Homo sapiens: one gene and its partners. The protein of the gene in region 2 purifies or fractionates together with the protein of the main gene of each other region. This does not show direct contact. Each region holds a gene or a part of one and is shown on either strand. Other genes may lie near its edges. The genes, in order: GINM1, ITGB8, B3GNT2 and LMF1.

Evidence for each region.
Region 1: the proteins of ITGB8 (region 2) and GINM1 purify together in Homo sapiens (affinity purification with mass spectrometry; 3 studies listed by BioGRID and IntAct, with this or other methods). This does not show direct contact.
Region 3: the proteins of ITGB8 (region 2) and B3GNT2 purify together in Homo sapiens (affinity purification with mass spectrometry; 2 studies listed by BioGRID and IntAct, with this or other methods). This does not show direct contact.
Region 4: the proteins of ITGB8 (region 2) and LMF1 purify together in Homo sapiens (affinity purification with mass spectrometry; 3 studies listed by BioGRID and IntAct, with this or other methods). This does not show direct contact.

The regions. Positions count from the first base shown.
Region 1 is NC_000006.12:149,560,165-149,569,904, forward strand, and holds the start of GINM1 (glycoprotein integral membrane protein 1 precursor), read left to right. Parts: upstream 1-6,210; 5' UTR 6,211-6,250; coding exon 6,251-6,370; intron 6,371-9,740.
Region 2 is NC_000007.14:20,409,699-20,416,910, reverse strand, and holds the end of ITGB8 (integrin beta-8 precursor), read right to left. Parts: coding exon 7,133-7,212; intron 7,037-7,132; coding exon 6,914-7,036; 3' UTR 1,157-6,913; downstream 1-1,156. UniProt on the Homo sapiens protein: Integrin alpha-V:beta-8 (ITGAV:ITGB8) is a receptor for fibronectin. It recognizes the sequence R-G-D in its ligands.
Region 3 is NC_000002.12:62,218,258-62,225,231, reverse strand, and holds the end of B3GNT2 (N-acetyllactosaminide beta-1,3-N-acetylglucosaminyltransferase 2), read right to left. Parts: intron 3,021-6,974; 5' UTR 3,012-3,020; coding exon 1,818-3,011; 3' UTR 501-1,817; downstream 1-500. UniProt on the Homo sapiens protein: Beta-1,3-N-acetylglucosaminyltransferase involved in the synthesis of poly-N-acetyllactosamine. Catalyzes the initiation and elongation of poly-N-acetyllactosamine chains. Shows a marked preference for Gal(beta1-4)Glc(NAc)-based acceptors.
Region 4 is NC_000016.10:953,037-961,893, forward strand, and holds part of LMF1 (lipase maturation factor 1), read right to left. Parts: intron 1,631-8,857; coding exon 1,321-1,630; intron 1-1,320. UniProt on the Homo sapiens protein: Involved in the maturation of specific proteins in the endoplasmic reticulum. Required for maturation and transport of active lipoprotein lipase (LPL) through the secretory pathway. Each LMF1 molecule chaperones 50 or more molecules of LPL.

The DNA of each region.
Region 1 (9,740 bases), on a different chromosome or scaffold from region 2:
ACCATTCAATCCAGCAATCCCACTGCTGGCTATCTACCTGAGGAAAAAGAAATCAATATATCAAAGGAATACCTGCACTCACATGTTTATTTCACCACTATTCACAATAGAAATATAGAGGATCAACCTCAGTGTCCATCAACAGATGAACAGATAAAAAAAAGATATATATACACAATTGAATACTATTTGGTTATTAAAAAGAATGAAATAATGTCATTTATAGCAACATGGATGGAACTGGAGGTCATTATCTTAAGTAAAATATGCCAGGCACAGAAAGAAAAAATATTGCATGTTCTCATTTACATGTGGGAGCTAAACAATTGGACCACATGGAGGTAGACAATGGAAAGGTAGATGACAAAAACTGGGTAAGGTGAGTGAGGGGGAAAGGGAAGGATGAAGTCAAGTGGGTTAAAGGGTATAAACATACAGTTAGATAGAAGAAATAAATTCAATGTTTGATAGAAGAGTTGGGTGATGTTAGTCAAACAAAAATGTACTATACTCAGGTGATACGTACCCTACATACCCTGAATTGATCACTATACACTACATACATATAACAAAGTTTCACATATACCCCATAAATCTGTACAAACATAAATAAATAAAAACACAAATAGATTGGTTGGGTTGTATATGAGAGGTGCACTCCCAGAGGTGCCCACCAGGGCATGAGCTCTGGATTGGCTGTGTTGTATATGAGATGTAAACTCCCAGAGGTGCCCAGGGAAGTAGTTTGCGATTTCTAGGAATTAGCTAACCCTCGGAGCAGCAGTGTCTCCAGGGCCAGCAAGGCCCCAGGTGCCGTAACATCAAGAATACAGAAAATAGGCAAATACAGTTAATACATATGGCTATGAAGTTGCCTGTCATTTTAGCACCAACTGAGGTAAACAATGATAAAGTGAGGCTTTTATATTCTAGTGAATTAAATAAAGTGAATCCTGACTTAAAAGAAGAAAATCCACTCCCAAGAGGGAAATCCACTGAAGGCAGAGGAAAGACACCCTACACTCTGCTTCTGCTTCCAAGTGGAGGCTTCTTTCATTTCTAAAGGTGATTTAAAAAGTCAAATAAGGCTGGGCACGGTGGCTCACACCTGTAATCCCAGCACTTTGGGAGGCTGAGGCAGGTGGATCATGACATGGTCAGGAGTTCAAGACCAGCCTGGCCAACATGGTGAAACCCCGTCTCTACTAAAAATACAAAAATTAGCCAGGTGTGGTGGCAGGCACCTGTAATCCCAGCTAGTCGGGAGGCTGAGGCAGGAGAATTGCTTGAACCCGGGAGTTGGAGGTTGCAGTGCGCTGAGATCGTGCCACTGCACTCCAGCCTGGGTGACAGAGCAAGACTCCATCTCAGAAAAAAAAAAAAAAGTCAAATAAGACAAATGAAAATGGCATCTTACCACAAATATAACCTACTTATCTGGGTTACTGAATATGAAATGATCTCTAAACAAACTCTTCTTGCAGTATCTGTTACAGATGTTCTATTTTTTAAAACCTGAAACCTGATAAGATTTCTTATTCCTTAGGATACTTATTTTAATCTTTTTTTTTTTTTTTTCAAGGCGGAGTCTCGCTGTGTCGCCCAGGCTGGAGTACAGTGGCTAGATCTCGGCTCACTGCAAGCTCTGCCTCCCGAGTTCATGCCATTCTCCTGCCTCAGCCTCCCGAGTAGCTGGGACTACAGGCGCCTGCCACCACGCCCGGCTAATTTTTTGTATTTTTAGTAAAGACAGGGTTTCACCGTGTTAGCCAGCATGGTCTCGACCTCCTGACCTCGTGATCCGCCTGCCTCAGCCTCCCAAAGTTCTGGGATTACAGGGGTGAGCCACCGCGCCCGGCCCTTTAATCTTTTATCTTCAGGATTTTTATTAGGGTACCAAATATTAAATTATAGTATGATTTTTAGCATCCTTGAGTACAAACGTCTCTGCAGATTTTCAGGTTGTTGAAACTAGTTAGCTGAGGGAGCAGAGAGCAGGGTCTGCATCTTGGCCCTGGAGCCCCTCTAGCTCCTGTGATGGTGGAGAAGGCATAGCTCTCTTACACTTTACTGTTTCTCCATTTCTCCCAACACAGCTTATATATATATATATATATATATATATATATATATATATATATATATATATATATTTTTTTTTTTTTTTTTTAAGACGAAGTTTCACTCTTGTTGCCCAGGCTGGAGTGCAATGGCGCGATCTCGGCTCACCGCAACCTCTGCCTCCCGGGTTCAAGCAATTCTCCCGCCCCAGCCTCCTGAGTACCTGGGATTACAGGCATGCGCCACCACGCCCAGCTAATTTTTGTGTTGTTAATAGAGACGGGGTTTCTTGAACTCCCGGCTGGCCTCGAACTCCCGACCTCAGGTGATCCGCCTGCCTCCACCTCCCAAAGTGCAACCCAGCTCATATTTTTAGAAAGCTAATGAGTAGAATAATTTATAATCATCTCTATAAATGTATATAAATTAACTAAATGCCTTTTGTTTCATTATACTGTGTTGGCTTAGAATGCCAGAGTTTAAAACCACAGCTTCATCATTTACTGTTCTGTAACTCAGAGAAAAACACTTAATTTCTATAAATTTCTGTTTTGTATATAAAAATGGGATAATAAATTGTAATCATGTCATTAGGCTGTTATAAGGTTTAAATAATATACATAAAGCACTTAACACAATTAGCATAATAAATGCTGGCTACTACAATGATAATATTTCTATGAGTTGTTCTTCATATGAGAGGCATCACCCATCATTATGAGCTAATTAAATTCATTCATAAATATATGGACAAGAAAGTTACAGCAAAAGCAGTTTTAAAATATTTTAGGCCAGGCACAGTGGCTCATGACTGTAATCCCAGCACTTTGGGAGGCCGAGGCAGGTGGATCACCTGAGTTCAGGAGTTTGAGACCAGCCTGGCCAACGTGGTGAAACTCCGTCTCTATTAAAAATACAAAAATTAGCTGGGCGTGGTGGTGGGCACCTGTTATCCCAGCTACTTGGGAGGTTGAGGCAGGAGAATCGCTTGAACCTGGGAGGAGGAGGTTGCGTGAGCTGAGATTGTGCCATTGCACCCTAGCCTTGGTGACAAGAATGAAACTCTTGTCTCAAAAAAAAAAAAAAAAAAAAAAAGTGGCTCATGCCTGTAATCCCAACATTTTGGAAGGCCGAGGCAGGAGGATTGCTTCAGCTCAGGAATTCAAGACCAACCTGGGCAAGCTAGCAAGCCCTCGTCTTCACTTAAAAAAAAAAATTAGCAGGGCATGGGGGCATGTGCCTACAGTCCCAGCTACTCAGGAGTCTGAGGTAGGAAGATGGCTTCAGCTCAGGAGGTCAAGGCTGCAGTGAGCCATGATCTATCTTGCCATGGCACTCCAGCCTGGGTGTCAAAGCAAGACCCTGTCTCAAAAAAATAAAATATAATATCTTTGTTTCTTGCTCTCCCTCTTGTCATCTTCTAGGGGTCTTTCAAAAAGTTCAAAAATATGTAGATGACTAACTCTGGAAAATACTGGAGTAGACTGTGTTGTAATAGAAGTGCAGTGACTCACTCACTCCCAGAAACTGGAAACAGATACAAATCAGGTCCCAGATTTCCTTTTGGCATCAAGCCTGCTTTAAATTGCAGAAAAAGATGGACTCAAATTTTGATTGTGGGAATGATGAAAATGACAATGAAATCGGCTACTGAAAAAGGAAATATATCAAGGTTTGGAATCAAAAGGTATTATCTGGTGAAAGAATAAAGACATTTTAATATATACTTTGTTTTCTGTAGTATTAGAAATATTTTAGAATATCTTCTCCTATATGAAAGATTACCTTCAAAGAAGAGAAAGCATCTAATGTGCACAGAACCGCAGTGGGTTGCTGTCAGGCAACTTGAACTCTTTTTATGATAGAGGATATCAAGTTGACATGAGCTGACTCAAAGGAACATCAAAGTACTCACCGTATTAACATTGACAGATTTATTTGTCGTGTAAGCAACTGCCAAGTTAATTCTGTCTTTTGTTTCTCAGATTAATGTGAAGGCTCAGTAAACCAAGCTGAGTTTTCCAATGGACAAGTGGAACTCAGCCACAAAGCTTGTTTAAAGTTTTGTTGTAACTCATTAGAGTTGTGGTATGGTGCTTTTTCCCCAAATGATGGGGTTTTTTAAATGAAATTCCGTAGCGCTCATGGGTGCATGTAGCAAAACAATGGCCTAAAGAGAACCATTTCATACAAAACAGTAAAATTTTTGATTATTAAATAATACTGTCAACCACTTAGACATTATTTGTCCAACAAACCCCCACTGAGGGCTTACTCTAGCAAGCTGTTTGCTTTAAGGTTTGGCCACCCTCTTCCTGGAGCTCACATCTATCTGACGAGACAGATAAACAATAAAGAATAATGGACAGTTAGACCATGGGAAAGGCTTTGTAAGAAAACAGAGAGCCTCAACTTTACCTATTATCTTTTCATATAGACGTACTTTGTAACCTTATATTACTAATTCAAATTATACAGATCCACATGTCATGTTTTCTGACTTCCAGATTCTTTTTTTTTTTTTTGGAGACGGAGTCTCGCTCCACCGCGCAGGCTGGAGTGCAATGGCGCGATCTTGGCTCACTGCAACCTTCGCCTCCTGGGTTCAAGCGATTCTCCTGCCTCAGCCTCCCTAGTAGCTGGAATTACAGGTGCGTGCCAGTATGCCTGGATAATTTTTGTATTTTTAGTAGAGATGGGGTTTCACCATGTTGGCCAGGCTATTCTCGAACTCCTGACCTCAAGTGATCCACCCGCCTCGGCCTCCTAAAGTGTTGGGATTACAGGCGTGAGCCACTGCACCCGGCTTCTAGATTCCTTTTTTTTTTTTTTTTTTTAATAGACTCAGGCGATCCTCCTGCCTGCGTTTGCTGCATAGCTGGGAGTACAGGCACAAATGACCACGCCCATCTCCAAATTCATTTTTAATTCCAGCAGTAGGAAAAAAAGGAAAAGGCCAAGTTTGCAGATGGAACCCAGAAGTGTGTGGGGCTTCGCTGTGAAATCACTTGTAGCTTAACAATGGCGTGGGGAATCTCAGAGTAAGCCCGGAGTTAGTTGAAAGGAGTCTTTAGCCAAAACGTTTATAATTTATTCTGGGGCGGGGCCGGGGGAGGGGGCGGTGGCGGTCAGCAGGCCTGTGGGAGGAGGGTGTTCAAAGGAGTAAAGGGGGCTCAAAGAGAGAAATAGATTCTTGTTTCCTTTTTCATGTCAAAAGTTTTATTTCATGTCAAAAGTTTTATTTCAAAGGAAGACTAAATATTACTCTTATTCTGCCTGAATGGCCAAGTTTCCAAGTTTTTCTCAATCAACATGCAATCCTGTTAATCTAAAATGCTTGAATTTCTTGCTACTCTGCTTTACAGGGTTCCGTAACTTTTTTTTTTTTTTAAATCTGCAAGGTGGAAGAAAAGTCTAACACTTTCACTTTAGAGTTACGATACTGACCAAAAAGGCACTGACAGCCCAGGTGCGCTGGCTTCCTTCCAGCTGAGCGCTGTCCCCGCGCCGCCTCCAGGGGTCGGCAGAATGCTGAACAGTAAGCATGGCGCATCCTCAACCTTGGCCCCACAATGAATCACCCGAGAAAATTAAAAAACCACCAGGGCCCGAGCCGCAGCCCAGGCTGGAAAGTGGGGTGTTCAGGAAGACCCCAGTACTTTTTAAAGCTGCCCGGGAGAGTCCCACGTGCAGCCAAGGGTGGGGAATTACCCACTTAATAAAAACTTCCCCTGTAAATGCGATGTTTCATTTTTAATGTATAACAGTTTTCTGAAATATTACCGTTGTTTTCATCGTATAGGTACATGTACATGTGCACACACAGACACATGCATGTGTGTAAATACTAATTTTAAAAATAATGGTTACGAGGACATTTACATCGCTCCAGTTGGAGTCCTGTCCAATCCTGAGGGCGGGTCTAATGAGGGGCCGTACCTTCCAAGATTTCACTCCGCCCCTCGACGCCGCGCGGCGCTGCGCGTGCGCAAACGCCTTTCCCTGGCGAGCCGGATCTCGGAGCGTCCCCGCGCCTCTCCGCGGCCGCCCGGGGAGGGGAGGGCCCGTCCCGCCCCTCCCCGTCTCTCCCCGCCCCTCCCCGTCCCTCCCGCCGAAGCTCCGTCCCGCCCGCGGGCCGGCTCCGCCCTCACCTCCCGGCCGCGGCTGCCCTCTGCCCGGGTTGTCCAAGATGGAGGGCGCTCCACCGGGGTCGCTCGCCCTCCGGCTCCTGCTGTTCGTGGCGCTACCCGCCTCCGGCTGGCTGACGACGGGCGCCCCCGAGCCGCCGCCGCTGTCCGGAGCCCCACAGGTAGGGCAGGGCGGGCCTGGCTGGCCGCTTTACGACTCCGACTCTCCGGGAGGCCCGGGCTGTCCACAGTGACGCTTCCCACATCCCACCGGCGGGCAGGGGCGGGGGTCCGGGCCCCCGAAGGAGGTGTGGGGAGAAGCACCCCAGGAAATGGGGGCGGCGTGGGAGGCCGAGGTAAGAGGAAAGGGACCCACTGGGGCTGCGTCGCTGTGAGTGAGCCTCGAGCCACTCCACACCGACTCTCCGGCGGCCCAAGCCGGCGCGCGACCTGACGGGGCTTTGCCGTCGAAGCGCGCGGTTGCCGGTGATCAGGCCTTCGTAATGGCGCCTTCCCGGGGTAGAGCCAGCGCTTGGGCAAGGAATGTTTGTGTGCTCGGGAAGTGTGGAAGTTGCCCACTTCGCGCATTTCCAGGCCACTTGTGCCTGCTCGGCCTGCGATCGCGAGGGTCCGCCGTTCCGAGGCTGCGGGGCTCCGCCGGGCTCAGGTGGGCAGAGGGAGAGACCTGGCCCTCGCGCGACGTAATGTTTTTGTCGGATGTTGGAGGAGAAGTTCTCACGGCGGGGCGCGATCGGCGGTGTCCGCATCCCCTGGGGACTCAGCCCGGCCTCTGGGGGCGGGGCCCAGCAGTCCGGGTTGGAGAGTCCTGCAGGTGCTTCTGATGCCAGCTGAGGTGGGAGAATCGAGGCATCCTAACATTAAAACGTGGCTGATGCTCACCATTCCTGCCGTAGAGTCGTGCCTACCTAGGCCAGTATCAGCCTTTTTTCAGTAGAATGGTAGGGAAAAGTTTGAATATTTTAAAGAGCAAGTGTTCTGAGAATGACAAGAAACTATGTCGGTACACCTCTTCCTAGTCAAGACTTGAATATGAACACTCTAAATACAAAGGCGAAGGGCACGGTAAGTGTCACTTTGACCAACAAGGTGAAACCCCGTCTCTACTAAAAATAGAAAAATTAGCTGGGCGTGGTTGCAGGTGCCTGTAGTCCCAGCTACTCGGGAGGCGGAGACAGGAGAATTGCTTGAACCCGGGAGGCAGAGGTTGCAGTGAGCCGAGATCGTGCCACTGCATTCCAGCCTGGGTGAGGGAGCTCAAAACAAAACAAACAAACAAAAACAAAAAAACCAAGTGTTAACGTTTTAGGATAATGACATTACCCCACGTGGGTACAAAAATGATGAGCATGTCTCAGTTCTGCAGGGCATTCCAAGAAGCCACGACATTGCCTGCCATAAGAACCACCTATATCTGAAATTATATGTGGACCACAGTTGCATCTGGTTAAACAATAGGAATGTGATGGACAGGCACCAAGGGACCAAATAAAAGTGAAATAGTTCTAAAAAGTTCTGGAAATACGGACATTATTTTCCTATTTTTCAAGTTTTAAAGATTCATAATTGACACCTATGTGTCAATGAGATGTTTACGTCTATATAATCTGCGAAAAATACATTTTGACTGCAGGCTTAAAATACACTGCATTGTCGGCTGGCTCTTAGTGATGATTTTACTATTTCAGTTCTCCCTTCTTGGGCCTTCATTTCACTTTCAGAAAGTCCAGATCTAAACTCGGAAATTCACATATTACGCTGGGTGCAGTGGCTCACGCCTGTAATCCCAGCTACTGGGAATCCAAAGCCAGAGGATTGCCTGAGACCAAGAGTTGGGTGTTGGATGATAAGCCTGGTTAACATAGCAAGAGCCTGTCTCAACAACAAAAAGTTTCACAGATTAAATGAGTGCTGAACAACTAGAAAGAGAATCTCATTACCTGGACTGTGTCTGTGGGAAACTGAAGTCCCTTGATCTAAGTCTTCTCAACGTCTTATTGTGAAACATTTCCAATAGGAAAGAATTTCACAGTGGTCCCACATATTGTGTAAGTGCTGTCCAGTAGAACTTTCTGCCTTGATGGTTATGTCTTTTCTCACCTTGTGGGTAGCCACTAGACTGCTGTGGCCACTGAGCACTTGAAATGTGGCCAGTGCCAGTGAGGAACTGTTTTTAAATTTTTATTTAATTTTAATCAATGTAAATGTAAATAGTCACAAGTGATTAGTGTGTACCATATTGAACAGTGCAGAACCAGACTACCCTTAACATTACTAGCTTTATCACATCTGTCCATCCTCGTTTCCAGTCTGATATAAATTAAACTGGTTGAAGTCAGGAAAATTCTGCCTTCTTCCGATGACTCAGATTTATTGGACTATAAGCATTTTTCTGTTTTTATGTATGCAGTTGTCAGAAGTTGAGGTAATACAAGATTGCACATAAGATTGAAAAATAAAAGTCTTTTTTTTTTTGAGACGGAATATCTCGCTCTGTCTCACACAGGCTGGAGTGCAGTGGCATGATCTCGGCTCACTGCAGCCTCTGCCTCCCAGGTTCAAGTGATTCTCCTATCTCAGCCTCCTGAGTAGCTGGTACTACTGGCGCGTGCCACCACACCTGGCTAGTTTTTGTATTTTTATTTTTATTTTTTTATTTTTTGTTTTTTATTTTTGAGAGAGAGTCTCACTCTGTCTCCCAGGCTGGAGTGCACTGGCATGATCTCGGCTCACTGCAACTTCTGCCTCCTGGGTTCAGGTTCAAGTGATTCTCCTGCCTCAGCTTCCCAAGTAGCTGGGATTACAGGCTCCCGCCACTGCGCCCAGCTAATTTTTTTATATTTTTAGTAGAGATGGGGTTTCACCATGTTGGCTAGGTTGGTCTCGAACTCCTGACCTCAAGTGATCCACCCGCCTCAGCCTTCCAAAGTGCTGGGATTACAGGTGTGAGCCACTGCGCCCGGTCACTTTTTTTTTTTTTTTTTGACGTGAAGTCTCGCTCTGTCCCCCATCCTGCACAGTGCAGTGGTGCAATCTCGGCTCACTGCAGCCTCTGCCTCCCGGGTTCCAGCGATTCTCCTGCCTCAGCCTCCCAGATAGCTGGGATTACAGGCACGTGCCACCATGCCTGGCTAATTTTTGTATTTTTAGTAGAGACGGGGTTTCACCATGTTGGCTAGCTGGTCTCAAACTCCTGACCTCAGGTGATCCACCCGCCTCAGCCTCCCAAAGTGCTAGGATTACAGGCATGAGCCACCATGCCCGACCGAAAAATAAAAGTCTTTATAGTAAATTCTTCTAATACTAAAATAACTTGGTCACCAAAGAGAGGCATTCGGAGGACACTTACTTTCTTGTATGCATAACTGTATATTTCGCTCAGACGTATTTTAAACCAGCTGTCTATTACCTTTATTCTTAGGAAGACACTTATGTCCCCAGTGGGCATCCTATGAGTAAAGGAATTAGAAGAATTGAAGATTTTTAGGGAGAAACTTTTCAGTGTCCCCAAGCACTTTTTAAGTATATGCAACC
Region 2 (7,212 bases):
CAAGAATAGCACTGGAAAGATCTGCCCCCATGATTCAATTACCTTCCACGGGTCCCTCCCACAACATATGGGAATTCAAGATGAGATTTGGGTGGAGACACAGCCAAACCATACCAGGTGCATTACACTTTATCTTTTCCTTCAAACTATTAAAAGCTCCTTAAGAACAGCTAATCTGTCTAAATGTCTTATTTCATTTTTAATATATCTATCTGTTGGGAGCAGGCCCCAAAATCTGGCCATAAACTGGCCCCAAAACTGGCCATAAACAAAATTTCTGCAGCACTGTGACATGCTCTTGATGGCCTTGATGCCCATGCTGGAAGGTTGTCAGTTTACCAGAATGAGGGCAAGGAACACCTGGCCCACCCAGGGTGGAAAACTGCTTAAACGCGTTCTTAAACTGCAAACAATAGCATGAGCGATCTGTGCCTTAAGGACATGTTCATGCTACAGATAACTAGCCAGACCCATCCCTTTATTTCTGCCCATCCCTTTATTTCCCGTAAGGAATGCTTTTAGTAAATCTTATGACTGGCTTGCTGTCAATAAATATGTGGGTAAATCTCTGTTTGGGGCTCTCAGCTCTGAAGGCTGTGAGACCCGATTTCCCACTCCACACTCTGTATTTCTGTGTGAGTGTCTTTAATTCCTCTGGCGCCGCTGGGTTAGGGTCTCCACGACTGAGCTGATCTCAGTATCTACCACATTCTGCTTTATTCTCTTCTCTAGGGTAAGAAAAATCACAATACATGGGTATTCAATAAAATTCAATTAATTTAAGCCTGACTCTTGAGAATGTGCAATTGAAGGTTATGAATGTGTCACACCTAAGGTGGTGGTAGAAGTCTCTGGCACATGGAAAATGCCTGTTTTAACTTTTAGCTATTTTTTTCAGGTTTTTGTCATTAGAATATTTCTTCTGTTTCTACTGCAAATAACTATCAAAAAGGAAAAGAACAACTAGGATGGCCTCCCCTGTTTATCATTGGCCCTACAATTTTCTAGGAGTAATATCTTTTTGGAATTATGTAATGTCCTCTGCTAATGACAGTGTATAGATGCTATTACATTTCCTTGGGGGACAAAGTACTGTTGTCTGGAAGCTTTGAGATTAATGTAACACAAAGTAAATAAGGAAGCGTTTTGCATATTCTTAGATTTTTACATTTTTATTTTAAAACAGAGAATTTCATATTGATTAACACCTACTACTAAACAGAATGATGCATTAATTAAATGCCTTGTCCTAACTGTTATAAGCTCTGTTAGAAAAATAAACATCTCACCACAAACTACAGTGTCAGCTCTTTAATAAATACATAAAACAGAAGTTAGTAGTCAATCAGAGTTATATGAACAGGTTCATAGTATATTATGTGAAAGTATCATATTCTCCAATATTCTGTATCATTTAAGACAATTTAAGTTACGTATAATTCAAAGCCAGAAATAATAAGAAATATGTTCAGTGATAATTTGCTTCTTTCTTAGAGCTATTTTATATTCAAATATTTAATTTAAAAATATATTCTATATTAAATTTATTTTTACAAACGCAGTATTCGTTAGGTGAAACAAAATAAGTTTTTATGTTACTGATAAGTTTAATACATTTCTAATTTTTTTCAGAAGTTCAAGAAACCATAATGAAGTAGCTAATGTAAAATAGTTTAAAAGCTATGTTAAATATACACAAAATGAATTTCTATATTAATATGTGCAAATGTATATTTTCTTATAATTTAGAATTAAAGTACTTTATACTCAATATTCTTAATAAAATTTATGTACCATACTTGTCATTGCGTAGACTTCTTATCAAAATTTCACATTTATCTGTAGGAAAATGTAAAGTTGGTAAAAATTGTTTACACAAATCACACATTTTCCATCCTTGACAATTGCAGTGTTTTTTTTTTAAATATTGCTGTATTAGACAATTTTAACTGAAGTAGGTTGTAGAGGCTAGAAACCTGATTAATAGAGCAGTATTAGACAATTCTAACTGAAGTAGGTTGCAGAGGCTAGAAGAAACCTGATTAATAGAGTTAGCTTACAAAGATAAATTTTATGCAGAAAAGTATTCCAGGTAGATAAAAGAGTAGTGTTATTACTCTCAGGTTTACATTAACAGCTGCCCAGATAGCTGAACAATTATTTCATATAATTCAAATAATTTAAATATGCAGTTTTATAACAGTCGTTACATAAGCTTGAAGTTAAAGTGATCAGAGCCAAGGGGGAAAAACCCACAAATGATAAAGAAGAATAAAAAGTAAGAGGACTCTAGAAGAAAGTTGTTTTTCACAGCACTGATTGTTTTTATCATATTTTTCTCCTGCCATTGATACAAGACATGTAAGATGCTGCAAAACCTAACTATGACAGTTCCATGTAATATTTTTCCAGTTAATTTTGTTTAAAAGTGAGATGATAATATAAAAGGATCTCATATAATAGAATAAAAATAATAAAAATTTGTTAATGAAACGTAGACATACCTACCCATTCTTGTTAGTTAAGTTAGGGTTTGCTGAAATCATTCGCACTCACGTAAAGTATAAATGGGGACCTGAAAGAGCTTTTGTAAACTCAAGATATGCGGGATCTGAGCTGATAATCAGTTAGGCTCCATGTTGAGTTGTGCGTGACTCAGTTGTCCTTAAATTTCGCCTTCATATTTTGTCATAAATGGGCTCTCAAATCTTTATAAGAAAACAAAATTTGCCTAGATGCATAAACATTTAGGTAAAGTTGGATTAGTGTAATATTTATTCAAGCATAATTTTAAACACTGCATCTGAAGTGCCAACAGTTGCAAGAAATGTCACAATTTCAGAGATGTTAAATTGAAAAAGTGATGTCTTGGAATCAATGAAATATAAATATGGATATGTATAATCAGTTATACATAAAAATTTGCTATAGAGGAATTATAAAAGAAAAGGAAAATTATTTGAAAGAATGTTAGCTATATCTCAGTGGTCTGCATTGCATAAAATGGAGTTCTTGAGGTCAATATAAATAAGGATAGTTGTAAATTAAATATTGAGTCAACATAACAGAATGCAATCTGCACATGATTGAGCTCCCATGTAACTATATTTCACTTGATACTTTTATGAAAACATATATATTCCAAATCCTTCAAAATGAAAAGAAGCTCAAACAGTTGTGAAAATTTAGAATTCTTAGATTTTAATGGGTCTGTCTTTGTTCAGGGGCAAAGACTCAAATGAGCTTTAAGATCAATTAAAGATGTCTGGAAATGAAGAACTTCATTATACCATTAAATTCAGTTATTTTTCACTATTAGGCTTATTAAGCTTGAAGCTTTAGGAAATCTCTTGGGAAGAGTGAGTGGAAAAAACAGGAGTAAGAAAAGGAAGAAAAAGCCTTTGAGTCTAATCTACTCTACCAGGTTCCAGGAAGAATATAATTCTACAGAGAAAATTCTTCATAATCTATCATAATATATTTCAGTGTCTGATGGCTGACTCTTGTCTTGCATAAAGATATCTTCAGTGGATATTAAGTAAATATTAAAAATATATTTCAGATTCATTCTTTGAAGGATTGCATCTCATGCATCCACAAATTTTAATGTTGAGTTTTGGAAAATTGCCTCCAGAGATATCTACTGTGTTTAATCTTAGATTTTTTTTTTATTTTAATAAACCAAAGATAAACTGAACATTTAAGACATAATCAGATTTTTAGTGAATTTTTAAGTCCTCCAGAAAAGTCTATGACTTAATAAATATTAGCAAGTTTCCAAAAATATAACAAATGTTTATAAATACGTGTGCACTGCAGTGCAATGGTGTCCCCAGAGAAATAAAATGCATAACAAAGCAAATGTTATGTTGTAGTGTATGTATGGCACATTTATAAATCATTACATACTTTAGGGCACAAAAATGCTGCAGTACTAAAAGTGTTGTTCAAGTTCTCAATTCTGTTAACAATTTAAAATTTCATTAATTGTGTTTAATATCAATGAATCTCAAAAGGCTCCTGTGGCCATATTAGTTGAAAATAGACTCTATTTGCATACATTATTTAACCTAAGAGTACCCTGTGTTCCCTTACCATTTAATTAATTCTAACTAGTCAAATATTAATTCTCATCTCACAAATCATTACACAGGAAGATATCAATTATTCAAGTAAAATACAAGCCCTACAATCTTTAAAAATTAGCTTTTTAAGTAAAAACAAAAAAGATAAGCACAAGACTTTGCAAGCATAACCACAATCATCGTCTAACACTGAGTTGCCTACAAGGAAGTTTGTCCCTTCCTATGGTAACAGCCTTGGTCCACTATAAAGTTAGTGCAAACAAGTGAGGGTATAAAAAAAATATAAACTCTGGATTTTTAAGGATTTCATTTTGTTATACTCTTTTTGGATAATTCATTCCATACGGAAATTTGTTTATTGTTCATAAATATCATAATGTTCATTTCAAAAATTGTCATCATCTTAATGGCTATCTTACACTTTTTTCTTTTGGAGGGTTGTCAGGCATCCATCCATTTTCCTTTTTAAGAAGAACGTTATGTGTATTAGGCTACTAAACCCAATTTTTACATTATTTTTAGTGATCAAAGGTTTCTTATACAAGTGACTCACAGTACTGAATTATGTCAATCTCTCATTTGAGGAAGGAAATGCAGTTCAAGTTAGCATTGAAAGTGCTTGGCTGTAGAGGACATCTAACAGAGCTGCTGTGTTTATTGGCTCCAGAACAACTTATTATAGGTTTTTCAGTTCTCTTTAGGGTAGAATATGAGATGGGGTTAGTCTTCATCAAAATGCAGTATCTAGTACTTTAACTCAAGTGCTGGAAGACAGCAAATCTTGGAAGTTTATTATAAAAAAAAAGATATTTCGGATAGATTCCTTTGTTGTCATGGGCAAAACTGTATATCCACACAGGACTGTTAGACTCCTAGCCAATAAAATCAGACTAAGTCCATAGGGATAAGGTAAGTGTAAATAAATTTCCATTGGGGAAGACAGGGCTCATGGCCCGTGTATCAAGGTCTCAAGCTGAGCACTGGAGAACTCCAGGGAACACTGTTCATACAGGCTATGGTGCGAAGGAATTCCCCTGTAGGTATGCCATACTTCAGTCTCTTAAGAAGCTGATTAGCATGAAAGACTGGAAGCTGATTATGGACAATTCAGTTTGAATTATTCCTTTCTATTTTGCTTTGAACTTTCCTCATACACTTAAGACATGAGTAAATCACATTGAAAAACATTTGCCAATTGAATATTTTAAAGATTCAAGAGGTAGCATGATATTGTGCAATGAACACTGGCCTGACAATGAGAAGATAAAAACTCCTTTCCAATGTGGCCACTTTATCACTTGAGTGTTTTCTGAGAAATCGTTTAAGTTTTCTGAGGCTCAGTTCCCTAACTCACTAAAAAGGAGAATTAGCAGCCTGGCATGGTGGCTCATGCCTGTAATCCCAACACTCTGGGAGGCCGAGGAGGGTAGATCACCTGAGGTCAGGAGTTTGAGATCAACCTGTCCAACATGGCAAAACCCCGTCTCTACTAAAAATACAAAAATTAGCTGGGCACGGTGGTGGATGCCTGTAATCCCAGCTACTCAGGAGGCTGAGGCAGGAGAACTGCTTGAACCCGGGAGGCAGAGGTTGCAGTGAACCCTAATTGCGCCATTGCACTTCAGCCTGGGTGACAAGAGTGAAACTCCGTCTCAAAAAAAAAAAAAAAAAAAAAAAAAGCTTATTTCTAAGATATCATCTATTCTCCAATTTTGTACTTTTATGAATTCTGGCAAGAAGGGTTGGAGTGATTCTGGGAAAGAACATCCTTAGGCTGCCTTGAAGGGAGAAGATAATATAGCTTTTCATTTAAAAAATGCTGATATCTACTTGCAATCAAAATCTAAGAAAACATTCAAAATGTGGTACTTTGCTTGAGGCAGAATTTCTAACTATCTTGTGAATTAATGATAAGATAAATGAAATGGCCAAACAATCCCTTCAGTTTACCAGGTAAGAGGATACAAAACTCCACACTTGTGCACAATGAAGCTATTCAGGTTTTGATGATACTTTACAGTGTCCCCTATTAACATTCAGCTTTTAAAACTAGTATTCTGATAAAGTGACATTGTATTATTAGTTTTTTATGGCAGTAGTAACTTAGCACTTAATTAATCCAGTCATCTGTGACATACATAAACTTATCCTGTAAAAAAGAAAACAAAACATAAAGGCAAAGAGGAGAGAATGCTGGAATTAGTATCCATCTTGCAAAAATAAGCAAACCATAAACACACATGCATAAAACTACACACTTTAAAAAGCAATAATCTTTTAAGATTAAGGTTGTATCTGTTCACCTCTTGAAAGAGTGAAACACGAATCATTTATTCATCTAGCTGTTCTTGTCTATTCAACCACCAACTGTTGAAGTGTTTGGCAACCTTAGAATATACTTGCCAGATTATTTTTTTCCTCACATGTCCAGTGCAGGGATTACTGTACCCTTGTAGTGACACAATGCTAAACTCTCTCACAGCATTGTTCTCTCTGGGAAGCGTAGGGATAACAGGTACCTGTAAAGTGTAATCAGTGCTCTTCAGAGGATCTACATTCTATGCTGATCTAAATAAGTTATATATTACAGTAAAGTGCTACAACGACACTAGTCTCAAACAGTAGTAAGACACATTTTTCTCTGAAAAAGTCAGCAGCTATGTGAGTCACATCATGATGAGGATACTTGTCAGTCTTCGTTCGAGTGTACAACCAGCAACTGGCATGACCGTGAGCAATTTGTCTCCTCCTGTGACTTTTAAAATTATAATCTTTAGGAGCAATTATTAACAATTCCAGTTTCCCATTAAGTGTTTAAAAATCTTTTTTTAGAAGTTGCACCTGAAAGTTTCATGAGCATTTAATTTGCTGATATCCATTTTTATTTCTTCAGGCTTCTCACGTCGGTAGGTGACTGCTCTTGTGCAAACACTTTGCAGAATCAACTTATCCTTAATAGAGAAGAAATATTATTATTAACTAAGGGCCTAAATATTGTAACTAGGCAATAACATACTGTTAGCAGTTCTTTTTTAGAATTCACTGACCTTTTTTGAGGCTGACACTCTGTAATCTGATGAGGACTTAATTTTATTACTATTCCATTGTAGTATCACCTGTCTAATGA
Region 3 (6,974 bases), on a different chromosome or scaffold from region 2:
CATACTTGCTCAGAAATGGCTTCCACATTCCAAACAGGATTAGACTGTTTGCTCTTACAACACTAACCCTTCTGTTTTTTGAGCTTCATCAATTGTCTACTTGTTTCCCACTGGACGTTAGTAGTGTCTTCTCAACATGGGTCTATGAAAGGAAATTGAGTAGTCAAGGCTGATTCTATATTTCATCTTTGTGGCTACAAACTCCAAAATAGAAATGGCTTAGGATAACACAATCTTTACAATGCCACACCACTCCCTAATTAAATTATTTATACTCACTGAAAATGGAAGCATAAATAAATATTCTCACTTTTCTTTAAAGACTTTAAATGGGAAAGCACTTTGGGGATTTTAAATGCAAAGATGGATGACGCACTGAGAGACAGTGATAGTTCAACACTACTGTAATGGTTTCTGGGGAGGAAACTGGCCTCTTTCAGGGAAAAATGTTCTCAAATATGGGAAACAAAAGGATTATAGATTACACATTACACAAAAAATTAAAAATACAGTGGCTTTATTTCCATTGTTTATAGTCCCCAGTATCCCATCTGATAAGAACCTTCAATTCTATAAACAAAAATATTTCAAGAAAGTATGTTACACAATAGTACATATAAGTAATAGTTTGGCAGAATTTTAAACTCTAGTAGTTCATACCCCCAAAAAACAAATTTTAAAATTCAAAAATAACAGTTTTATTTAACATATGTTACACCTTAACATTTAAAATATCATGCTCTAGTTAAATATTTCATCAACAACACTGTATACAAATAAAATATTACATAAAATATATTTAAGAAAATGTTTTGGTCTTTGATCTGAACAATAAATAAAAACACAGGCACTTCTACATAGACAGGGAAGCAGTTACTACTCAATAATAATCTTGTATAAGCAGCATGTGAAAATATGGCAATAATAAATTCTGGAATTTTAAATTGACAAACCATCTATGCAAAAGTCTGTAACTTCAACCTTTTCACTCAAGTTCAAAATACATATGCCTTCCTGGTCCATATTGAAAATTCACTAACACGATATGGTTGTTAGCGGCAATTCAATCTTCAGTTGGCCATTAAGGAATCACACTGATTTTCAAATACTAAAATTACACTATGATACCACCAGGAAACCAAATACAAGAAAAATTAAACCCTCTTTCTCCTTATTATGACCATAACATCACAACAAGATAAATTAGATGAGTGTCACACCATGATTCTCATTTTGCAAAATTAATTAACACACAAAAATACTGTTGGGGTGGCAGGAAATTTCCACAATTGAAAAACTGAATTCCACAACTGACAACTGAAATTTCAGTTTTCTAGACAATTTAAAATTTACCCAAATCCCATAAAAATAAACATAATTCCATTTCACGAAAACCACTGGATAATGTTTAACAAAGTCTTTGTAGCCAATAGGTTTATAAATACCTGAATTACAAATAAATCAGTCATTATTATGGGAAGTAGGAATATTATAGAAGAGGGCAAACAAAATCACTTAAAATGGCCAAATTCCAGAAACAGGATTTCAGATAAGAGGGTACAAGTTTTTTAAAAATGACCACTAGCCGGTAAGATCAGAACCAATCATCCTGCCATATCATCCATAAAAAAAAATTACCATCTTCCGCTTTCCCTCTTCACGTGAGTACCAAATTGAAGGGTTTAGAGGCCCTCAAATGGGTATCACTCATAAAGGCAATTTTCATGGTTTAATATAGAAATTACTCTAATGTGAGAACACAACATGGGAACTATTCAAAATACACCTTTCTATGCAAAATTGAGTTTGTATCTATTTTAGCATTTTAAATGAGCACTCTGCAACTGAGACCAAATATCAATCATCTCTTGAGGTTTTCTACTATGTACTAACATCAGATCTACATAGGAGCAGATGTTATTTTTGTTTTTCTCCTCGATATCAAATGTCCTGAAGCCTTTGTGTTTCTCTGGAACGAGGCCGAGTTTCTGAAGGCACATTCCAGTATAAACGTCATCAATGGGGTAGAGATGGACCTGGTCAGTGATATGGTACAGCCTCAGGGCCAGGTGGCCGGAGTAGAGGAACCCCCCTCCCCCTGCATAGGGTGGGTAGAGGCCAGAGTAAACAACTTCTGGGATGTAGTACTTCAGCTTCTTATCCCGATGAGGTCCAGCATTGTGGATCACATCACCTATGAAGAGATCTTTGGCTTTGGTCTTGGATAAACTATTCAAGTAATTCAGGATGTGATGGGTGTTCACAAAAACATCGTCATCGCCCTTGAAAACAAACTCAGTGTCTGGGCAGGAAGTACTTACCCACCTGAGAAACAGCACTTCCTTCAGAGACAAGTTGAAGAAAGTGTCTCTGTAGTTCCACATAAGAATGTCTTGGTGCTTCTCACTCTCAAATTTCAGCATATCTGAAAGGTCGGGGTGGTTGTCCTCTGGGGGTGTCTGGCCCAGCAGGAAGACTCGCACCACCGTTTGGTTCCCTGCGTTGCTTTCTTGGCCCCAGGATTCCCGGATTGCTTGCCTTCTGGCAAAATGTGGAGTGAGGGACTTAATCGCCAGCAACAAGAAAGGTTTCTTTGCACACTTATCCGGCTGATCTATAAGCAGTGAATAATTGCGGCATCTCAAATACAGCAGAAAGTCTTTAAATCTGTCCGGCAAGTTGTTAAAACCCGTAACCACCGACGTGACCCTCAGGTCAGGTTCGCAGTAGTTCAGATGGCTTATATTGGAGAGCCTGCCCGCCTCCCCCGTCTGGTTGGTCAGCATGCTCAGGATGGGGTTGTACTGCCGGTTCAGCTTCTCTTGCTCTCGGTTCCAGTATGCCTCGGGAGGGGTAGATATCTTCCAGAACTTCTCTTTGGGTATTATTACTTCCCCTTTTCCATTTTTTTCTTGGCTACTGCTTTTGGAGACTTCCATAATAAAATAAATGAAGACATTTGCCATCATCAGGATACCCAACAACTTTATTCTTCGACGTCCAACACTCATTTCTCATATCTGGAATAAAGGGGTGGAGTATTGTATCAATTACTTATCAATTTGCATTTGCACATACAATTTATTTTACCTGTCTCCCCAGGAATAGTGGTTTACAGCAAAGACTCTACACTTGCACTGCCTAGGTTCAAATCTTGGCCCTTCCTTTCTAGCTTTGTGATCATGGGCAAGTGGGATAGTCCCTGTCTCAACTTCTCCATATATAAAATGGGAATCAAGCCCACTTCAAAGGATGGTTGTGAGTATATGATGTTATATGGAAAGCTTTTAAAATAGCGCGTGGCTCACAGCAAGCACTATGTAAGTGACTGTTTGAGACATGCTGAAGCTAGAAATACCTATTACTAAATAACCTCAGGAGAGTTCAACTTCCTTGCTTACAATGGCACATACAGTGCTTGGCAAACCGATTTGCCTAAATTATAACAAATACATTTTTATACTGTGTTTAGTATACACATACATACACAAAACTCTATTTACATGTGTGACGCATTGTGTGCAGTTCCATGTCATTCACTCTCAAGTTCTCTTCTATTTCATTTGAAAAACTTTGAGATTTTAAAATGTAGAAACAGGGACTGGTTACGTTGCTCAGGCTGGGCTCAAACTCCCAACCTAAGGTGATCCTCCCACCTCAGCCTCCCAAAGTGCTGGGATTATAGGCATGTCTGACCCTATCTCTCTCTCTTTTTTTTAATGTTAGTCCCAACCCTGAGTTATTTTCCAACCTACCATTTTACAGATAAGGAAACCAAAGCAGAGAGATTAAGACACTTGCCCAAGGTTGCAGGGCTAGGAAGCAGGAGACAGGAACCACAGAGCATCTCAGACAGAGAAAATGAAAGCAGACTCAGGACAGCTTTATCCCAATAGCCAAGAACTGGCAACAGCCCAATATCAACAGAACAGATGATCAAACTGTGGCATCTGCATACAATGGTATATCCCCTCGGCAATAGAAAGGGAAACTATTGTGGATGAAACATTACAACATTACATTGTGAATGAAGGCCAGACCCAAATTTTCATTTATATTAACTTCAAGAACAGGCAAAATGAATTTAGGTTCTAGAAATCTGAAAGTGATGGAGGTGGTGGGCTTAGAGAAGGATAGGAAGGAACTTCCTGGGGTACAGAAATGTACCATGTAGGTCTTGATCCTGATGAAGGCTCCACGGATGTATGCATATGTCAAACCTGAAGTGTATATTTAAGATCTCTATTGTTTGTAGCAAAAAGGGAAATACAAATGATATTTTAGTGAAATATCAAAAGATTTCAGGCTGTGGGCAATGGAAGAATAAAGAATGAGTAATGAGATGGTTTGCTGGGGATATCCAAGGTTCTAACACTATTGACATGGATGACCTATACAAGAATGAACATTTAAACCAAGGTGACATTAAAAGATAGCCCAAAAAAGTGGGATGGCAATGTTCTATAAAGAGCTGAAGATTTTCTTATCAGGTTAATTCAACTGGGAATTTATCCTTAGGTACTATTACTCATTCCCATTTTATACCTGAGGAGGTACACATTTAAAGAAGGGCAGACTGGAATACCAGCCAAGGCAAACAGATTCCAAGTCTGTACCATGCCAAAAGGTAGCTACACTTCTCCAATCCCTAAAAGAAAGCTTTGCAACTATTTTAATCTAGTATTTGCTTTTTGAAAGGAGAGGATTTTTAAGTTCACTGGATTCTAACAAACGGTAAAGTAGAAAAATATTTGTCATGCTGAGAATGCTGTAAAACTATTACATATTAGAGAGCCCAGATGAGATCAACAGGAATTCACAAGCTATTGTGTGTCTGTAAAGATCTGCCTAGTAGACCTTTATCTGGTTGCTTGTATTTACTACTGCTGAAACCACCTTTGCAAAGATTATGGACAGTAAGAAATCTAGCATGGCTGACTCCATCTTGCGTCTACCCTCACAGGCTAGCTGTCTCCACTCATTCCTGGGCATAGGCCAAGCTAACCACGGGAGAAATTTAGTTTACAGTTTAACTTCGAAGCAAAGATGGTAACAGTCCCTCCATAAAACTGATCCCTTCCTTGTTCAGGGGGCTGAGGCTAATGAAAGGTCACAAGATTAGGATTGAGAGGGGCCTGAATTCTGCTAAAATGTAAGCACAGTTTTTATAATCCCGTATTGCTCAGAAGTCATGTGGCCAGAGGCCACAAGATCTTTGACTTCCCCAAGTGCTCCTGTAGTTAACACCACTATTATAGAAACTAAGATTGGTCTTCTGAATGTTTCTCAGACTTACCCCACCCAGACTAGAGACTCATGACTCCCCCCAACCCCTGCAGACTCAGCACATGGCTTTGATTGCATCCACAGCCAATCAGCAGCACCCACTCCCTGGTCCCCTGCCCACAAAACTACTCTTGAAAAACCTAACCTCATACCTTTGGAGACTTCCGTGATAACTCCAGTTATTTCTCAAATACTTCTCAAAAAGAAAAGGTTCTCTCTAACTTGGGACAATTCTCCTAATGCTAAAGTGAGCCCTTGACCCAGTACTGCTGTCTCTAGGTCTCAGGCCCTTCCTAGTCTGGAAGGAAGGGCAACAGGAAATGTGTGATGGTGAAAAACTACAATGAAGAAAAAGATTTGCAAAGGGGCCAGGCAGAGTGACTCACGCCTGTAAACCCAGCACTTTGCTTTGGTAGGCCGAGGTGGGCAGATCACTTGAGGCCAGGAGTTTGAGACCAGCCTGGCCAACACAGCAAAACCCTGCCTCTACTAAAAATACAAAAAAGGCATGGTGGTGCACTCCTGTAGTCCAAGCTACTTGGGAGGCTGAGGTTGCAGTGAGCTGAGATCGTGCCACTGCACTCCAGCCTGGGTGACAGAGCAAAACTACTCAGGAAAAAACAGCACATACTATGAACAGCTTAATACCCGGCAAAAATTTAACTCAGTAAAGGGATTTAAACATTAATAGACCTTTACCAAAATTTCTGGAGTAAAAGAGGACAGCTTAGGGAAGAAAAAAGGGAAGCACAGTACTTTACATAGGAGGCTGTGAACTTCCAGAGCTAATTCTCCTAGGAAAGATACAGAGTGAATAACATGTAAAAATGACTCCAGATAATTTAACAAGTTTATACATCTAGATTATGGGAGAGGCCATGAATAACTGGAATCCAGCCATAACCACTTGAAGCCTCTATCACGGAAAACACCAATCCTTCTTTTGAGGATGCTTTGAGGAATAAGCTTGCTGACCCCTGGCAAGATTTCCAACTTCATCTGCTACAATTCAGCCTTTTATTTCCTCAATCAAGGCCACGTCAAGGTACAGTTCTCACATCACCTTGGCTCAAGACACAGGGACTAATGAATGGCCTTCCCGGGAACACCACCCTCAACTTTCATTTAAGTGCTCAAGGCCTCCAGCCCGCAGGGCATTTTCCTGCTCATTTCTCATTGCACGGGATGCCACTTTACCAGGAGAAAATGGAAGCTCAGAGGGGACTGATGATTTGCCTGAATATTATGGAAGAGTTACGTGACAAGGCTTAGACAAGACCACCTTCTGGCTCCCAATCCAGGACTCTCTGGATCTCTTTTTTCTATGAGGCTCAACCACATTCTAGTTACCTGGACCAGGTCAACAGTGAAGTCCCACAGGCTGATTATGGCACGGGATCATGGTACATTGATAGTTAAAGAGGCTCCAAAGAAAGAGAAATGGGGGCACCTACAAGCTCCCAGCCCCACCTCAGGAAACAGATCAGCCTTTCTTGTAAAAGACTTCAGATTCCCAAAGGCTCAATTTGAGGCAACTCTTCCCATTACTTGCTAAAGGGTATTTCTTTCAAGCCAATCTGAAGAGGAAGGTGGAGAAAACAAGATTCTCAACTGCACATTTCCATCAAGGTTAAATGTCATCGTGCACTTGTGACCTGGGCACAGTGTCTTGCATGAGAACTCGGCTT
Region 4 (8,857 bases), on a different chromosome or scaffold from region 2:
CCCAAACCAGCCTCCTACACGTCCACACAGACACCCACTCCAAACCAGCCTCCTACACGTCCACACAGACACCCCAAACCAGCCTCCTACATATCCACACAGACACCCACCCCAAACCAGCCTCCTGCACGTCCACACAGACACCCCAAACCAGCCTCCTACATGTCCACACAGACACCCACCCCAAACCAGCCTCCTACATGTCCACACAGACACCCACCCCAAACCAGCCTCCTACACGTCCACACAGACACCCCAAACCAGCCTCCTACACGTCCACACAGACACCCACCCCAAACCAGCTTCCTACACGTTCACACAGACACGGACCCCAAACCAGCCTCCTACACGTCCACACAGACACCCACCCCAAACCAGCCTCCTACACGTTCACACAGACACGGACCCCACACCAGCCTCCTACACGTCCACACAGACACCCACCCCAAACCAGCCTCCTGCACGTCCACACAGACACCCCAAACCAGCCTCCTACATATCCACACAGACACCCCAAACCAGCCTCCTACATATCCACACAGACACCCCAAACCAGCCTCCTACACGTCCACACAGACACCCACTCCAAACCAGCCTCCTACACGTCCACACAGACACCCCAAACCAGCCTCCTACATGTCCACACAGACACCCACCCCAAACCAGCCTCCTACATGTCCACACAGACACCCACCCCAAACCAGCCTCCTACATGTCCACACAGACACCCACCCCAAACCAGCCTCCTACATGTCCACACAGACACCCACCCCAAACCAGCCTCCTACATGTCCACACAGACACCCACCCCAAACCAGCCTCCTACACGTCCACACAGACACCCCAAACCAGCCTCCTACACGTCCACACAGACACCCACCCCAAACCAGCTTCCTACACGTCCACACAGACACCCACCCCAAACCAGCCTCCTACATGTCCACACAGACACCCCAAACCAGCCTCCTACACGTCCACACAGACACCCACCCCAAACCAGCCTCCTACACGTCCACACAGACACAGACCCACTGCTTCTGCCTCCCTTTCCCCATCCCTCTGGCTCCAGTAAGCTGGCAACGCAGTCCTTTAAGTAAGGAAGAGCTACTGCAAAGAGGTGGGGTTTTAATCCTGAAGATGGGTGGCTGCTGTGGCTGGTGCACTGGCCGCTCTGCCATGGCCTAAGTAAAATGACAATACCCTCCTGAAGGAATTTAAGATAAACGCTCGTCCAGTCTTTCCAAGTGCCAGGACACCTGCAGTGCCTGTGCTGAGTGACAGCAAGCCCTAAGCTCCGACCGCCCCATTCCTGCTACTCACCAGACATGGCCCACATTAACCAGGGACATGTAGAGGCCCCACAGGGCAGCCATGAGAAGCATGTTGGCGCAGCCCGTGATCAGTACGAAAGACGAGATGCCCAGTCCGAGAAGAGCCAGCAAGTCCAGGTTGGAGTTCATGTCTGACCAGTCCATCAGCCAGAGGATGGTGGGCATGTAGCTGAAGACTTCCCAGCTCGTCCTGTCCTGGAAGTACTGCTGGAAGTTCTTCAGGAACACTCTGCAGGGAAGCAGCCCCCTGTCACCGATGAGCTGCTTGTTCTGATGGAAAGCCACCAGGAATGCCACGACTGGAAGAAAAAGAAGACAAAACAAGCATGACTAGGAACAAACCACATGTGGACACCATGGGCGCAGCTCAGAATGCGGGGCGAGGCAGGCGGGAAGGGGAGGCAGAGTCTGGCTGACGGTTTGGGGCCAAACCCTAGACTCAGGAGTCTGAGTACTTTCTCAAGATTTTGGGGGAAACACTGGAAAAGCCAACCTGCAGCAGACGCGGTGTGTGCATACACGCATACACATCTAAGTGAACTAGACACGTTACATAAAATGCGTGCCCGCAGCAGACGCGGTGTGTGCATCCACACACACACATATCTAAGTGAACCAGACACGTTACATAAAATGCGTGCCTGCAGCAGATGCGGTGTGTGCATACACACACACACATCTAAGTAAACTAGACACGTTACATAAAATGCGTGCCCGCAGCAGACGCGGTGTGTGCACACACACACACACATCTAAGTAAACTAGACAAGTTACATAAAATGCGTGCCTGCAGCAGACGCAGTGTGTGCATACACACACACACATCTAAGTAAACTAGACAAGTTACATAAAAGGCGTGCCTGCAGCAGACGTGGTGTGTGCATACACACACACACATCTAAGTAAACTAGACAAGTTACATAAAAGGCGTGCCTGCAGCAGACGCGGTGTGTGCATACACACACACACATCTAAGTGAACCCGACCCGTTACATAAAATGCGTGCCCGCAGCAGACGCGGTGTGTGCATACACGCACACACATGTAAGTGAACCAGACACGTTACATAAAATGCGTGCCTGCAGCAGACGCGGTGTGTGCATACACACACACACACATCTAAGTAAACTAGACACGTTACATAAAATGCGTGCCCGCAGCAGACGCAGTGTGTGCATACACGCACACACATCTAAGTGAACCAGACACGTTACATAAAATGGGTGCCTGCAGCAGACGCAGTGTGTGCATCCACGCATACGCATAGAAGCAAACTAGATGCTTGTATATAAATTCCGTGTCTGCAGCAGATGCAGTGTGTATACACGCACACACATAGAAGTAAAGTAGACATGTGTATATAAATTGCGTGCCTGGCTACACACAGACAGCCAGCTGACCAACCGGACTGCACTCAGCATTCACCATTATGAAACACACCCTGAGGACCCTGGCTCTGGTCAACGGCATCACTCCCAGCACACGCTGCAGGGCTTGACACTTACTGCCTATAGGTGAGCCACACTTGCCCTCTACGCAGACCACAGGTCTCCGAGTTCACGTCTCACGGCGCCCACCCCACGACGGCTCTCTCACATCCACAGGTCTCCGAGTTCACGTCTCACGGCGCCCACCCCACGACGGCTCTCTCACATCCACAGGTCTCTGAGTTCACGTCTCACGGCGCCCACCGCACGACGGCTCTCTCACATCCACAGGTCTCCGAGTTCATGTCTCACGGCGCCCACCCCACAATGGCACTGTCACATCCACAGGTCTCCGAGTTCATGTCTCACGGCGCCCACCCCACGACGGCTCTCTCACATCCACAGGTCTCCGAGTTCACGTCCCACGGCGCCCACCCCACGACGGCTCTCTCACATCCACAGGTCTCCGAGTTCATGTCCCACGGCGCCCACCCACAACAGCTCTCTCACATCCTCTGGACGTCAGTATTTGTAGAACACTGAATGCTTACCCAGAGATGCTGACAGGTGAGAGAAGCACATTCCCATGTGTAAACGTGAAGAATGAAAAAGCAGTTGAAAGTAAAAAAGATACACCATTCAAATGTGAATCAAAAGAAAGCTGGATCTAATTCATCATGGCTGAAAAAAATTAAAAATAAAAATAAAAAATACAAACAAAAGAAAGTGGAAGTGGCTCTATTAACATCATAAAAAGTAGATTTAAGGGCTGGGCAGGGTGGCTCACGCCTGTAATCCCAGCACTTTGGGAGGCCAAGGCAGGCGGATCACCTGAGATCAGGAGTTTGAGACCAGCCTGGGCAACATGGAAAAACCCTGTCTCTACTAAAAATACAAAAATTAGCTGGGCGTTGTGGCAGGCACCTGTAATCCAAGCTACTCAGGAGGCTGAGGCAGGAGAATGGCTTGAACCTGGGAGGTGGAGGGTGCAGTGAGCCAAGATTGCGCCACTGCACTCCAGCCTGGACGACAAGAGCAAAACTCCATCTCAAAAAAAAAAAAAAAAAGTAGATTTAAGGGTCGGGCACGGTGGCTCACGCCTGTAATTCCAGCACTTTGGGAGGCTGAGGCGGGTGGATCACCTGAGGTCAGGAGTTTGGGACCAGCCTGGCCAATATGGCAAAACCCTGTCTCTACTTAAAAAATACAAAAATTAGTCGGATGTGGTGGTGCACCCCGGTAGTCCCACCTACTTGGGAGGCTGAGGCAGGAGAATCACTTGAACCCGGGAGGCTGCAGTGAGCCGAGATGGCACCATTGCACTCCAGCCTGGGCAACAGAGACTCCATCTCAAAAGGAAAAAAATCAATTTACAAACAAGGAATGACACAGGGATGAAAGAAGATATTGCATAATGATAACAATATCACAAGAGCAACCCCACAAGTACATGCGGCTTCCTACTGCGTGTAGGAATCTGGCTTGGGGTCCATGTCTGTGTAACTGTGCATGCTGGTTTGGAGTGAGTGTCTGTGTAGACATGTAGGAAGCTAGTACATGTACTTTTCCCCATGCATTTATAAATCTAAAAACATATAAACGGAATCTGCACATGGAAAACTACAAAACACTGATTAAAAAAATGAAACAAGATCTAACTATATGAAGAGATAGACCATGTTCATGGATTGGAAAAATCAAAATCATTAAGGTGTCAATTTGATCCATAAATTCGGCACAATCTGAACCAAACACCCAGTCAGTGCTTCCGCCGAGGCTGACAAGCTGATTCTAGAATATACATGGGAGAGCAAAGGGATTAAAAAGCCAAAATCATCTGGAAAAGAACAGAGGTGGAGGACTCATGTTACCCAATTTCAAGACTTACTAAAAAGCTAATCAAGACCACATCAAGACAGCGCAGTATTGATTAAGGAAGAGCCGCAGAACTCAATGGAATGGAAGAGACGGCCCAGACACAGCCCCCCTGCCCCCGACCCGACACACAGAGTGAACAAATTCTGACAAAGGTTCAAAGGCAACTACACAGACAAAGAGCAGCCTTGGGCCGGGCGTGGTGGCTCACACCTGTCATCCCAGCACTTTGGGAGGCTGAGGCAGGAGGATCGCTTGAGCCCAGGAATTCCAGAGCAGCCTGGGCAACATAGTGAGACTCAGTCTCTACAAAATAAATAAAAAAACAAAGAAGAGTCTCTGTAACAATCATGTTGGAACAGATGGATGTCCACATGCAAAAAGATGGACCTGAACACACTTCACACCTTACACAAAAATTAACCAAAAAGGATCATAGACCTAAATGTAAAACATAAAAGCATAAGACTTCCAGATGGAAATATAGAAGAAAATCTATGTGACTTGGGTTTGGCAACAAGTTTTTAGATACAACACCAAAAGCATAATCTATGAAATTAGAAACTGTAAATTGAACTTTATCAAACTGAAAAACTTTTGATCTGCAAAAGCTACTTTTAACAGAATGAAAACACAAGCCGCAGATTGGAAGAAAATACTGGCAAATCACACATCTGATAAAGGATTTGTATCTAGAATATTTAAAGAACTTTTAAAATTCAATAATTAGAAAACAAACAACCCAATGTTAAAGGTGGGAAGAAAAAACCAGGCCACAAGGTCTGAACAGACATAGGAAGGTGTACGGATGGCAAATAACACGTGAAAAGATGCTCAACATCCTTCATCACTGCGGAAATGCCCATGAAAACCACAGCGTGCTGTCACCACACACACGTCACATGGCCGAAGTGCTTGAAAACGGACAGTGCCCAGGCCGGGCGCGGTGGCTCATGCCTGTAATCCCAGCGCTTTGGGAGGCCGAGGTGGGCAGATCACCTGAGGTCAGGAGTTCAAGACCAGCCTGGCCAATGTGGTGAAACCCCGTCTCTACTAAAAATACAAAAATTAGCTGGGCATAGTGGTGCACACCTGGAATCCCAGCTACTCGCAAGGCTGAGGCAGGAGAATTGCTTGAACCCAGGAGGCGGAGGTTGGAGTGAGCCGACACAGCGCCACTGCACTCCAGCCTCGGCGACAGAGTAAGACTGTCTCAAAAAAAAAACCAAAAAAACAAAACAAAAAAAACACGAACATGGACAGTGCCCAATGCTGCAGAAGGTTCGGGACAGCAGGAGTGCCCTCGCTGTGCCGGGGATGCTGTGGCCTACCACTGTGGATGGCAGACGGTGGCATCTGACCCAGATAATGAAGGGTTACCTTACAAATCAGCTACTGCACCTCTCAGGCCTTCAACCTGAAAGTGTGCTCGCACAGAAGCCTCATGCAGATGCTCATAGCAGCTCTGTTCATAGCCACTAAAAACTAGAAACAAGGAAGACATCCTTCACGGTGGAAGTGGATAAATAACCGGAGGTGCATTTGTGCAACAGAAAAATAATCAGAGATAAGAATGCAGCTGTTGGTTCAGGCAATAACATGGATGAATCTTAAGTGCATTTTGCTAAGCAAAAGAATCTAGACCCAACAGGCTATATACTGCGTGATTTCATTCGTATGTCACACTGGAAAAGGCAAAACCAGAGGGACGGGAGACAGACCCGGGCGTGCCAGGGGCTGGTGCAGGGGAAGTGGTCACTCCCATGCACGGGGGACTTGGGGCTGGAGCTGGGGTGATGGAGGCAAAGCCCACAGCACTGAGCATTACACGAGATGAACTTCAATGTGCACAAACTATTGGGGGAAGACCCGACCAGGAGGTTGGGGGATGCAGATAGAATACAGGCTCCACACGCACGGATGTGAAACAGAAACACACTGGCCAGAGGGCAGGAGCCGCCTAAGCAACTCCGGAAAATGTTCTGAGTGGAGACCGCAAGGCCAGAAGGAGCTGTACACAAACGCTGCACTCCAGGGCTTTCCCCCCCGGGCCTGGGTGGACAATTCTCGCACGTGCACCAGGGCTGAGCAGATGCTAGAGGAGTCAGGGGAGCCAGGTTCCCACTAGCAGAGAGGGAGGATTCAGATGGGCCAGCAGGGAAGACTGGAATACACCGTGTGCCAGGACGGGAGGATGGAATACACCATGTTCCAGGACGGAAGGCTGGAATACACCGTGTGCCAGGTGAGAGTCAGAGTCATCGGCATGGACCAGGTTGACCTTCGTATACTTACAGATGGATAGGTGGATACGACAGAGAAGCAATCAAATGTGTGAAATGAGATAGTGACACACAGAGCCTAGCTCTACCCAGGAAGAGGGCCAGCAGCTGTGACACCCCGGGAGCAACGGCCCTCCCAGTGCCCAGACTGAAGTTTCTATGCTCCCCTAAAAAGAACCAGGGCTCCTTGGAAACAACTCATTCTAGGGCTGGGGCAGAGAAACAGAAGCTGGGCCGGAAGCATCCCTGCGGGGAAGGAGGGGAAACCCACCAGTGGTCAAAGCTGGAGGAGCTGAGCAGCAAACTCACAGTGACAGCACTGGATCATAACCCAGACAAAGACTCACAGTGACAACACTGGATCACAACCCAGACACAGACTCACGGTGACAGCACGGGATCACGACCCAGACACAGACTCACGGTGACAGCACGGGATCACGACCCAGACACAGACTCACGGTGACAGCACGGGATCACGACCCAGACACAGACTCACGGTGACAGCACGGGATCACGACCCAGACACAGACTCACGGTGACAACACTGGATCACAACCCAGACACCATCTCATGGTGACAACACGGGATCACGACCCAGACACAGACTCACGGTGACAGCACGGGATCACGACCCAGACACAGACTCACGGTGACAACACGGGATCACGACCCAGACAGACTCACGGTGACAGCACGGGATCACGACCCAGACACAGACTCACGGTGACAGCACGGGATCACGACCCAGACACAGACTCACGGTGACAGCACGGGATCACGACCCAGACAGACTCACGGTGACAGCACGGGATCACGACCCAGACACAGACTCACGGTGACAGCACGGGATCACGACCCAGACACAGACTCACGGTGACAGCACGGGATCACGACCCAGACACAGACTCACGGTGACAACACGGGATCACGACCCAGACAGACTCACGGTGACAGCACGGGATCACGACCCAGACACAGACTCACGGTGACAGCACGGGATCACGACCCAGACACAGACTCACGGTGACAGCACGGGATCACGACCCAGACAGACTCACGGTGACAGCACGGGATCACGACCCAGACACAGACTCACGGTGACAGCACGGGATCACGACCCAGACACAGACTCACGGTGACAGCACGGGATCACGACCCAGACAGACTCACGGTGACAGCACGGGATCACGACCCAGACAGACTCACGGTGACAGCACGGGATCACGACCCAGACACAGACTCACGGTGACAGCACGGGATCACGACCCAGACACAGACTCACGGTGACAGCACGGGATCACGACCCAGACACAGACTCACGGTGACAGCACGGGATCACGACCCAGACAGACTCACGGTGACAGCACGGGATCACGACCCAGACACAGACTCACGGTGACAGCACGGGATCACGACCCAGACACAGACTCACGGTGACAGCACGGGATCACGACCCAGACACAGACTCACGGTGACAGCACGGGATCACGACCCAGACACAGACTCACGGTGACAGCACGGGATCACGACCCAGACACAGACTCACGGTGACAGCACGGGATCACGACCCAGACACAGACTCACGGTGACAGCACGGGATCACGACCCAGACAGACTCACGGTGACAGCACGGGATCACGACCCAGACACAGACTCACGGTGACAGCACGGGATCACGACCCAGACACAGACTCACGGTGACAGCACGGGATCACGACCCAGACACAGACTCACGGTGACAGCACGGGATCACGACCCAGACACAGACTCACGGTGACAGCACGGGATCACGACCCAGACACAGACTCACGGTGACAGCACGGGATCACGACCCAGACACAGACTCACGGTGACAGCACGGGATCACGACCCAGACAGACTCACGGTGACAGCACGGGATCACGACCCAGACACAGACTCACGGTGACAGCACGGGATC